Linked DNA regions of Homo sapiens: region 2 is linked to region 1. The links come from fine-mapping of genetic effects on gene expression. A gene starts in region 1. The other region holds a variant in brackets. All regions are shown on one strand. Distances are from middle to middle.

Region 1 (5,235 bases):
TAGCCAGGTGTGGTGGTGCATGCTTGTAATCCCAACTACTCGGGAGGCTGAGACAGGAGAATCACTTGAACCTGGGAGGCAGAGGTTGCAGTGAGCCAAGATTGTGCCACTGCACTCCAGCCTGGGTGGTAGAGCAAAACTTCTTCTCAAAAAAAAAAAAAAAGATGAGGATAATAATATTGTATTTCTTTTATTCTAAGACCCACTGCTCCCACCCCATCCCACTTTAATGTTTCTTTATTTAGGACCTATCTTAGAATTGACACCCCCAAATGCTTGCTTTATCACAGGGCAAGGAAGAAAAATTGTGACAGTGTTATCACTAACTGGGTATATGCAAATTTAGCCATCCACAGAAAGATGTTCACTTGGTAATTAGCTTAGTTATTTGCCTTTGTGGTGCCATGCAGTTGAATATTAATTTGAACCCCAAAGTGTCACTTTAGGTATCTTCTAAAAGGCTACACTGTGATTAAGTATTAAAATAATAAGTTATTGTATATGCAGATTAGCTGTCACACATCAGGAACGCAACCAAATATAGTAGAGATTGCCAACTGTCTTGGTAAATTTGACATTGAAGTTACAATGTTAGGGAAGGTTGGCCTGACCACTAATGTGCTTGAGGACCCTGAACATTTAACAGTCAATAGTCTGTTTTTAGCTATCAAGAAAAGCTGTGTGGTTTCCAGGAATACACAATTAAAAAAGAAATCAAGTTTATAAGCAAAGAATAAATGAATATAATGCTTCTATATTCTCTGAAATGCCTCAGAATTATACTGTTAATTTTCCTTTTTCCTTTTTTTTTCTTTTGATACAGTGTTTTGCTCTGTCTACCCAGGCTGGAGTGCAGTGGCACAATCATGGCTCACTGCAGTCTTGACTTCCTAGGCTTAAGTGACCCTTCCACCTCAGCCTCATGAGTAACTGGGACTATAGGCATGTGCCTGGCTAATTTTTTGTATATTTTTGTAGAGTTGTAGAGACAGGATTTCACCATGTTGCCCAGGCTGGTCTGGAACTCCTGGAGCAAGGAATCTGCTCACCTCGGCCTCCCAAAGTGCTGGGATTACAGGTGTGAGCCACCATGCCCTGTCTATACTGTTAATTTCTAAAGATGCTAAAGAGATCAAGATATCTCTTGATGGGTTACGAAAAACAGTATGTCATCACGCTATACTTAGCCAGACGGTCAGAAAGTTATATTAAGACTTTAGAAGGCTGGGTGTGTGGCTCACACCTGTAATCTCAGCATTTTGGGAGGCTGAGACAGAAGGATCACTTGAGGCCATGAGTTTGAGACCAGCCTGGGGAACGGAACGAAATTGTTTGATTGTTTTTGAGACAAACAAAAACTTCAGACAGTGAAAGTGAGAGAACTTAGACTTAAGCCCTTTGATTATAGTACTGAAGAGGCAAATGGTACAATTAAAATAGCCAACATTTACTGAATGATCGATATGTGGCACTGTGTTAACCGGACAACTTCATCAGATCTGTGTGTTATGTTCATTTTAAAGTGAGAAAGCTGGGACCTAAATCCAGGAAGTTTGCCTCCAGATTCTCACTCAGAGCCACTATGCTGTTAGAACACCCTGTATATTCATTTTTATAGATACGCCCGTGTTTTTTAGGTTGGCTTAAAAATTACTCATTACATATAAGACATCTTTGTACTTTTTACAATCAATGGCATCTTAAAATGAAGGAGTATGGTAAATACCTGCCGTGAGGATCAGATGATAAGTATCTTAAAGTGCTTCTAGAAAAAGTGTGGATTAGAGGGGCAGGTGTTGCAAGGTGAGTACGATGAGCCTGGTCTTCAGAACCCCACCATGGCAGAACAGTGAAAACCACCAGGAGCAAAGTGTCAGTGAGGGGGAATGCTTTCGGCAGTTTTGAGAGGAGTTCCTCCACACGAAGCACCCTACCTCCCATACCTGCCTAAATCTTTCTATGTCCAACCCAAACGGCAGCTCCTTCAGGAAGTGGTCTCTGGCTATATGAGAAGATGTACATGGGAGCAATTTCCAGATTATGAAGCTATGGAACAAATACATGAAAGATGGATTTTATCACTAAAGTTATCCTCGCTCCTCTTCTGGCCTCAGTTTCTCTAAACTGAAAGGAATAGGTGGCTTAGCCTATCTCTTCCTTTTATAATTTCTGCCTCTAACCTCTTCAGATTTCTGCCAATCTGCTTTGAAAAGCAAATTTCCTTCCTCAGACCTGCAGGAGACTGCTCCTCTGGGCTGGCAGCTCAGCAGGGCGGGGCTCGGGGAGCAGGAGAAGAGGCGGGGGCTCGGAGGGAAGCGCGGCCGCAGCCACGTGACTTCCTTCCCAAGGAACCTCAGCTGCCGGCCTCCCAGCAACCGGTGCGTCCCGCCTAGCGACGCCCGCGCATCCCGGTTGGCCCTCGGGGGCGGTTGTGGCAAGGAGGTGCCCACGGTCGCGCTGCTCATTGGCTCGGGTTGCCGTCGCTCAGACCCGTTGCCCGGGCGCCCGCAGGCGGTGCTGCCGGATGCCCCGCCCCTTGGCCGCCAGGTTCGTGGCTGGCTGGCCGCTGCTGTCACTCCCCGGCCGTTTCCCTGCGGCCAGCGCTCTACTTGGGGCGGGAGGAAGAGGGGCGGGACTGGGGCCTGACTAGTCGTCGCCGTCTTCGCGGCTGCTATGACCAGCGGGCGAGGCGCCCTTCGCAGCTCCGCGCAACGCTAGTCGCGGCCGTGCGCCCGCCGTAGCCGTCTGCGTCCCAGCGCGGCCGCTCCCGCGGCCCCCTCGGCTTTGCCAGCGCCGCCTGCGAGGCGGAGGCAGGATGAAGATGACTGTGGATTTCGAGGAGTGTCTGAAGGACTCGCCCCGCTTCAGGTAACCGGCACGGCCGCCCGGCGTCACCGCGGAGCTGCCTTCCCGGCGCTGGGGGCGTGAAAGCCGGGCCCGCGCACCCGGAGGAGGCCCCGCCGTCCGCTCCTTCCGACGGGGCGAGCGGCTGTTGCCGCCGTTTCCCACCCTGCGAGGGCACTGCAGTCCCCACCGAGCCCTCCCGAGGGGCGACGAAGTGGCGGGGACGGGGACGTCGCCTCTCATTTCTTTCCTTGCCCTCTGCCGGGGCGGAGCGCCCCGAAGGCCGGCGCACCCTCTCCCGCTGGGGGAAATGGGGTGCAGCCGCGCTCCCGAAGTCCCGTCCCCTTCGCGGGCGCTCGCTCTCGCCCCCTTCCTCCTCTGGCTGCTCTTCCTTCCCCCTTCCTTCCGCCCCTTCTTGGTTTCCACCCCCTCCCCACCCCCTCTTTGAGGGAGCTTTCAGGGCATCCTCTTGCAGTTCATTTAGTTCCTCTTTGCGCTTTTCTGCCCCCCTTCCCCGGGGAGGAGAGAGTAGGGGGCGAACTGGGACGCCGACTTCTGCTTCGCGGTGCCCCCGGCCAGAGCGACTCTCCGGAGGGCGCCCGCGGTGGATGCGTGCGGGAATCGCGGGGGGAAGCGCTGTGATCAACCGCATTCCGTGGACCCTAGTTGGTGACTACCTGCTTTTCTTTCCACTTAAGCTCGTTGAAGGGGGCACAGCTGTCGAGAGGTACCGGGCTGAGGGCGGAGGACTAGCAGAAAAGTGCATTTCTGTTTTGAGAACGGAAGTAGGAGGGCCGTGAAGATTGCCTGTGTGTTCCTCTTCCAGCAGCCTCTGCCCAGGAGGGCCCGGATCACAGTCGGATGCTCCCAGTGGATCTGTCACAGAGTTGACATGGGGGCACTCCGATTCACATGGGTTGCCCTTCTTTCTATGTGAGAGGCGGTCGTCCTGAGGCCGTCCAGGACACAGGTTCTTTCTGTTTTGAGGATAGTAGGAAAGTCTTGAGTTGTTTTGGACAATGGAGTTTTTCTAGGTTGCGTTTTACAGTGTATTTATTTACAGGGCTGGTCATAGTCCTTACAAATATAAGGCCTTAACACTTCCGTTAGATAGTGACATTTCTTGAAGCTTCCTCTGAGCACTGGCGTGTGTGTGCCCGCTAATGTCTGGGCCAAGCCTGGATTGTAAATTGCATCCTCTGCCTGGGAACTAACTGTTCTCATCCTTAACACTGTTAATTGGATTTCTTATTCTCCTTTCAGCGAAAAAGAAAAGAATTGTAAAACTAAGGAACTGCTACTTAGAGAAAATTTAAGAACGCTTTTTGCGTTTGCCCTTTGATGATTTTTGGGTATTAATTTTATTGGAGCCTAGGGCTATTATTTAAAAAAACCCACTTCCTTTGATAGCTGTTGTTGCGATTCATTTTTGAAACTTTTATGTTCTGCATTATTGAAGGACTCAAGAGACACAAATAGATTTCCTAGGACAGGCGTGCAGGTTGGTTTCCAGGACAGCATGGCAAGTGGAGTAATTTTTAAAGTGCACCTTAGAAAGTTCAGCTTTTTGTGAAATTTTGTTACTATGACTCAGCTATTTATTTTTAAGTGAAATAATCACAGCATTTTTCCCTTAGAAGATGTAGCTTTGAACTCCCTTTGTTTCACATTAATTTTTTTTTTTTTTTAAGTTGAGAGAAGTGATTTGGAAATACTTCTAGCTACTGGGGTTGGTCACAAACCATGTGATGTCTTTGTTTTTGAAATAAAGAAATCATTGAATATAAAATAAGAGGGCAACATACTGATTAAGTTGTAGGGAATATTATAGTGAACTTTTGTTAAACTTGATTGTAACATAAATTCTATGTTAATTAAAATATTACAGGTTTTCAGGAGTTGTTTCCCATATTCCAATTATTGTTAGCTGCAAATTGGGAAGAGATGCCAAAATTTCAATAACTTCAACATCTTATATACATTTTGGGGACAAATTAGATTTGCAATAGAGGGAAGACTGCCGAGAAATAGAAGTTTCATTATTCATATTCTTAATTTTTTATAGTTTTTCCATAATCCTATTACTATGAGGATCTGTATAGCATTTGAAAAGAATATTTGAGAAGTCTTCATTCACATGTTGTATGTATAAGAAGAGCTTTACTTTTGAGAGTATTGTGTATGTTGAGTGATAGTGAAACTTGTATCAAAATAAAAAGCTTGTGAGGCCTGGGCTTGTTTTTTGGTAGTAAGGCAGCTGCACTTGTGTCCTGATCTATTGGGCTGTCTTTAAATTAATACGTGTCTTTATTCATAAATGAATCTTGTGGCATTTAAGTCTAGTGTGTGCACATAACTGTCTTGGTGCTGTAGAATTAATGCAAAAGGCAC
Region 2 (5,235 bases), 160 kb after region 1:
ACTTCTTCAAAATGGTTTCTTTTTTTTTTTTTTGAGACAGAGTTTTGCTCTTGTTGCCCAGGCTGGAGTGCAATGGCACGATCTCAGCTCAGCAACCTCTGCCTCCCGGGTTCAAGCGATTCTCCCTCCTCAGCCTCCTGAGTAGCTGGGATTACACACATGCGCCACCACGCCTGGCTAATTTTGTATTTTTAGTAGATGAGGTTTCTCCATGTTGGTCAGGCTGGTCTTAAACTCCTGACCTCAGGTGATCCACCTGCCTCAGCCTCCCAAAGTGCTAGGATTACAGGCGTGAGTCACCGTGCCCGGCTAAAATGGTTTCTTTATCTCTTTGTATAGTACTAGGGCAGAGGCTGGGATTGTTAGACTAACAGATAATTATTCTACTACCTCGAGAATTAGAGGATTCTCTAATTCTGTAGGCAGGATAGTTGCATTGATATTAGTAATTTGTGAAGTTCCATTACCTTTGGGCAGTGGTAGGAATTTGTGCTTGTTTTTAAAAAGAATTATTCACATAAAGCTAGGTGCTCCCACCCATAATCCAAGCTACTCAGGAGATTGAGGTGGGAGCGTTGCTTGAGCCCAGAAGCTGGAGAAAAGCCTGGGCAACATAGCGAGGCCCTGTCTCTACAAAAAATTAAAAATTAGCCGGGTGTGGTGGCACATGCGTGTAGTCGTAGCTACTTGGGAGGATGAATGAGACCCTGTCTCAAAAAAAAAAAAAATTATTTACGTGAATACTTGATTAATTTTAAGATTAAAATGCATGCTTCTGAATGTTTGAATAAAATGTAATGTGATCTTTTAAATAATTTTGAGGTCTTAATTTGATTTACATCTCAGATCAAAGTAGTTTATTACACATGGAATTCAGAAAATTAATCGTCACCGATACCTTATTATGTAGGAAATCTCAAGCATGTTTTGTATCGTCACTTATTCTTTATCACTTATTCACTTACCCTGGGCTAAATGAAGCCCATAATTGCTTATCCCCCCTCATTGGAGAAGAAATAGGTCCATCCACACTCCTGAGCTCCTACTGAGAATTCTTGACTTGTCATATGTCACCCCTCTGCCAAATAAAATAACAAAACAGCAAAACATACTTTCTCAGATCCTTTCCCCACAGGAGGGGTTACTGTTATTATGGAGGCTATTGCAGGAAAATGTAGAACTCTTAAATCATTACAGATTTACAGTAGAAGAAAGATAAGTTATTAAAGAAAAGATAGGAATGATATAGAGAGACAAGCTCTGCAGGCAGCTTCCCAGGCAATACCTATATAGCAGTGGACCCTTCCCTTAAAAATAATCTGTTTTCAAATCGTCTAAATTTTCTTGTTTTACTTTGTGTGAGTGCTTCAGTTTCACTTAAGAATTTTTGTAAGCATCCTCTGTGAAAACCCAAATGCCAAAGGAAGATTTGTGGAACTGTTGTTAATACACACAGTGGTTGAGAGAGAAGATAAAGGGAATTGTGGAACTTTGAAGATAGGAAAAGTTCATGTCACACGCTGCAGTTGCCAGAGAGAACATTTCAGAAGAGGGTGATGGAGGTCTGAGAAGGCAGTGGAAATTTGGTGGCCCAGAAGGACGGACGAGAGGTACAGAGTAGGAGAGGGGTACCAAACACAATATTTGCCTATTTTAAAATGTTGCTTAAAGGAAATACTTAGCTTCTTAATCTAGTGCTACATGTCATCTGCTGCCAAGATGAGTAACCTAAAAAGAATGTATAAGCAATATGGTAATGTTAGGAAATTCTTGGTAACCTATAGTCATTTATTATAATGTTTGTATATCAAAATATATTCCCAGTGTTTAGAGGCCACACATGCTGTTTATATGTCTGCAGCTACCTCACTTCAGGGTGAGCCAGAGTGAACTTATGACAGGTTCTCACTTCTGCACTATAGAAGCAATAATTTCAACAGTTGGCAGTTAAAATTTGACAGGTTGCTGTAAGAGCCAGGAATTGTCAGGCATCTGGAGGAAGCAAGCCACTAGAGGTATTGCGGGGATGCTGCTGCAGTACAGCTAAAATGCAGTCGTCAGAAGATTTTT[G/A]TTGTCCTTTCTTATGAGAATTGTATGAAGGTGAGATACTTATCTTTGTACCTCAGATTGCTGGGTTTGATAAACTAAAAGCCAGATTATTTTAATGGCAAATAAAACACAATTACATTAGTACATGTATTACCTGTTTATAGACTTTATTTATGACATTTATATTATATAATGTCATCTAAAACACTATTTTATTTATTTTTAGGTTACGTTTAGCAAGAATGAATGAAGAGATGCGGGAATCAGAAGGACTTTATGGACAGCCAGGTCAATATTCTACTAATAACCATACTGAAATGCAGTATAAGAAATGCATTCAGGAATTTATCAGTTTACAACTGGAAGATTCATAGTTCTTTAGCAAACTAATGTGATACTATAGAGTTTTTATAACCCACTTGTAAATTGTGAGTTGTTAGCTTTGTACTGTACTTAACTGAATCCTTGGGTGGCTAATCCCGGGCCTTTAAACATTCGTAACTCTTCCTATGACAGTACACATTGACTTGCTCTATTTCACTCTGGCTGCTGACTTCTTTATTTGCTGTACGGATGTCTTCCATATACATTCCAGTGAAATGAATGGAATGGTAAAAATATTCTTCATATACTTACAGCAGCAAAATAGTTGTTTTCTTTTTGGAATTCTTTTTAGCTGTCAAGTGAATATAACAAAATTGTTTTCTTTTTGTTATTCAGGGAATTTCTATAAATTACGTTCAGGGAAAAAAAAAATCACCATGTGTCTGGCATATAAAAAGCCAGTATGGAAAATACCAAGAAAAAGTTTACTGATGAGTTTTGTACTACAATCTAAAAATGAGTTGAAGATTTAAAATGAAAATTCACCAGGTGGAGAAGTCCATGATGTGAGTGGAGCTAGTTTGAAAGGCTGAGGGCAAAGGTCTCATTTTATCTAAAGCTAAAGCTTTGCCTCCAGGCAGTTGTACATTATCTCTTAGATAAGCGGAAGTATTTAGAACAATACTTTTTGCACCTGATGGCAAAGTAGATTTATTCTACTTGAGAAATTTCAATTCATGATCACCTCAAGTTTCATTTTGAGTAATTTTCACCTTTGAATCAAGATGTCAAGGAAGAAGTATCAGATTCTTCTCTTTGAAGAACACGTTGATTAGACGTTCTTCACAAAGAAGAGAGTAATTATTGGTTTTCTTGTTTCATGAATTTGAGTATATGAATTACTCATCTGTCTGTTTTAAATTTATATACACATTAGTAAAAAATTTCATGAATTCGTGACTAAAATACTTGAGAATATTCAGTTTGCAATGAGTAGGTTTGGTTTTTTAAAAATGAATATTGATACATTATTTTTAAAGTGACCTGGTAATATCATCTCTTCTTCCTGTTTAAATACATTTTGAAATTTCTGTACTTCAGCCATTTATTTTAACGAGATTAATATATAGTTAATGTGAGGCCGTTCTTTCCTCAGAGGACCGTATTTACTACTGCTTATTTTTGGCCTAATTTAATGTGGAACAAGTAAGAACGTTAAGAATAGAGGCACTTCAGCTAGATATTTCTAATCTAGGGTGTCCCACTTGAATCCTATGGATCATACAATAGTAGGCGGCTCATGATGTTCCGAGATGGAAGAGTGCTGATGAAGGGTGAAGCTCTAGCGTTCATTCTGGATTTCACCCATTTGTTTCAAACTTGAATGTTAGATTTTAAATAGGTTATAATTTTATAACAGATATTCTTAACTGATAGTATTACTAGGCCGTTTTTGAGGCCTTTGTGTTTAAGCACTTTAAAATAAAAATTGTTTAAAGAATATGACCTGATATTTGTAAGAGAAGAGTGAACCTCACGATTTTAAGTTAAACAATTATTTTCCCCCTGACATTTTTAACTTCAGTGTTTGGTTAGCTGCTCTTTCCTTACGGTGTCTGCTGATGAAGTTCACCCAGCTGATTAGCCAGGTGGTCAGTGGTCGACTCTTCTCTGGAGTTGGGAAGCTTGAAAGGAAAGGGCCTCTAAGTTCTTGCCACTTCTAGTTCCACCCAAATTGTTTGGGTGTCTGCCACCATCATTTAGGAGCATTCAAATGTCTTCCACTGTCATTTTTGAGTTTATATATACATAAACTTAAAATGTATAGAAAAGATTTTACCAATTTAATTTAATGAAAACTTGAAAAAAAAAGCCTCATTTTAAAACAAGCTCTCTTACCATTCTCACATTTTAGTTTAGAGGTTAAAAAATAGACCAGAATTCTGGAAATAGTATATCAGAATAAAATTGAGATATTTCTGATTTATTTGAGGATCATCTTGAGAAGGGTTAGATTTTTAACTCATTCAGAGGGCCTAATATTTAAAGCAGGATGATTTTATGCTTAGACAGGGGACATGGTGAAATGGCATAGCAATTGCTCTTCGGTTTCTGTTCTTTTTCTTTATGAGACAGGTATGTTTGGCTCAGGCAGCGGCTGTTTGTTTTTCCTCTGCTTATCACTGTACATTTTTCTATCAAATGCTTTGGTTGCTTGTTTTATTGAGATCCTTTTTTGGTTTTCTTAGCAATAGAATGAAAACCTCAGAACTCTGGGTAAATTAAATGCAGGTATTTTTAATCTTTTGATAATGAAGAGCTCTTATCCTTTAAAAGATTCAGATGTAATCTTTGGCAATCACTGATTTATTTCTAGGAAACCCCACTTGTGAACTTTCTATCTGTACAACCCTAGGGACCTGGGACTCCCTGTTTCTTGCGTGGGGTGATTGAGAGCACACGTTTTCTTCAAAAGAAGGTGTGTCTCTCTTTGGCAGTCCCAGTAGCCCTTAGGAGACATGGGTGGGTGAGGGAAACAGCACACTCTTCTCTCAGTTGTTGGAAACCGGTTTGGTGGTTCCCACAGTCTCTGGCTCTGTGACTCTTCTTGATCGTTGGCAGGCTCTCAGCCAGTTGAGAATCATCACTGCTTTAGGGACCCGCTACTGGTTATGTGAGTATGTAGCAAGCACAAGTTGGGAATCGCTGATCTAAGTAATTATGAAAGTAAGCTGTTACCCACCCAGAAGGGGTAAGGTCGTGCATAGGATGACCTGGGGTGGGTCTCATGTGCTGCCGTCCCTGTGAGGTGAGGGGAGTACATTTCAAGAGCAAAATTAGCAAACTCTTGAATCATCATAA

Evidence for each region. PIP is the estimated chance that this variant, and not a neighbour inherited with it, causes the effect.
Region 2: its variant is the best candidate, but not a certain one, in a credible set for the expression of ACAP2 in skeletal muscle (GTEx, PIP 0.58).

Annotation. Positions count from the first base shown.
Region 1 is chr3:195,440,428-195,445,662 of GRCh38, reverse strand. It overlaps ACAP2 (ArfGAP with coiled-coil, ankyrin repeat and PH domains 2), which reads left to right and starts at 2,643. Exons shown (of 23, transcript NM_012287.6): 1 at 2,643-2,868. The coding sequence starts at 2,816. RefSeq lists silencers at 2,279-2,778, 2,899-3,118, 3,139-3,188 and enhancers at 2,600-3,099, 3,639-3,728.
Region 2 is chr3:195,282,898-195,288,132 of GRCh38, reverse strand. ACAP2 (ArfGAP with coiled-coil, ankyrin repeat and PH domains 2) reads left to right here. Exons shown (of 23, transcript NM_012287.6): 22 at 2,276-2,337. Among named protein-coding and RNA genes, the nearest start is that of XXYLT1, 14 kb to the right of the region's middle. The variant G/A (reference allele first, on the strand shown) is at 2,071.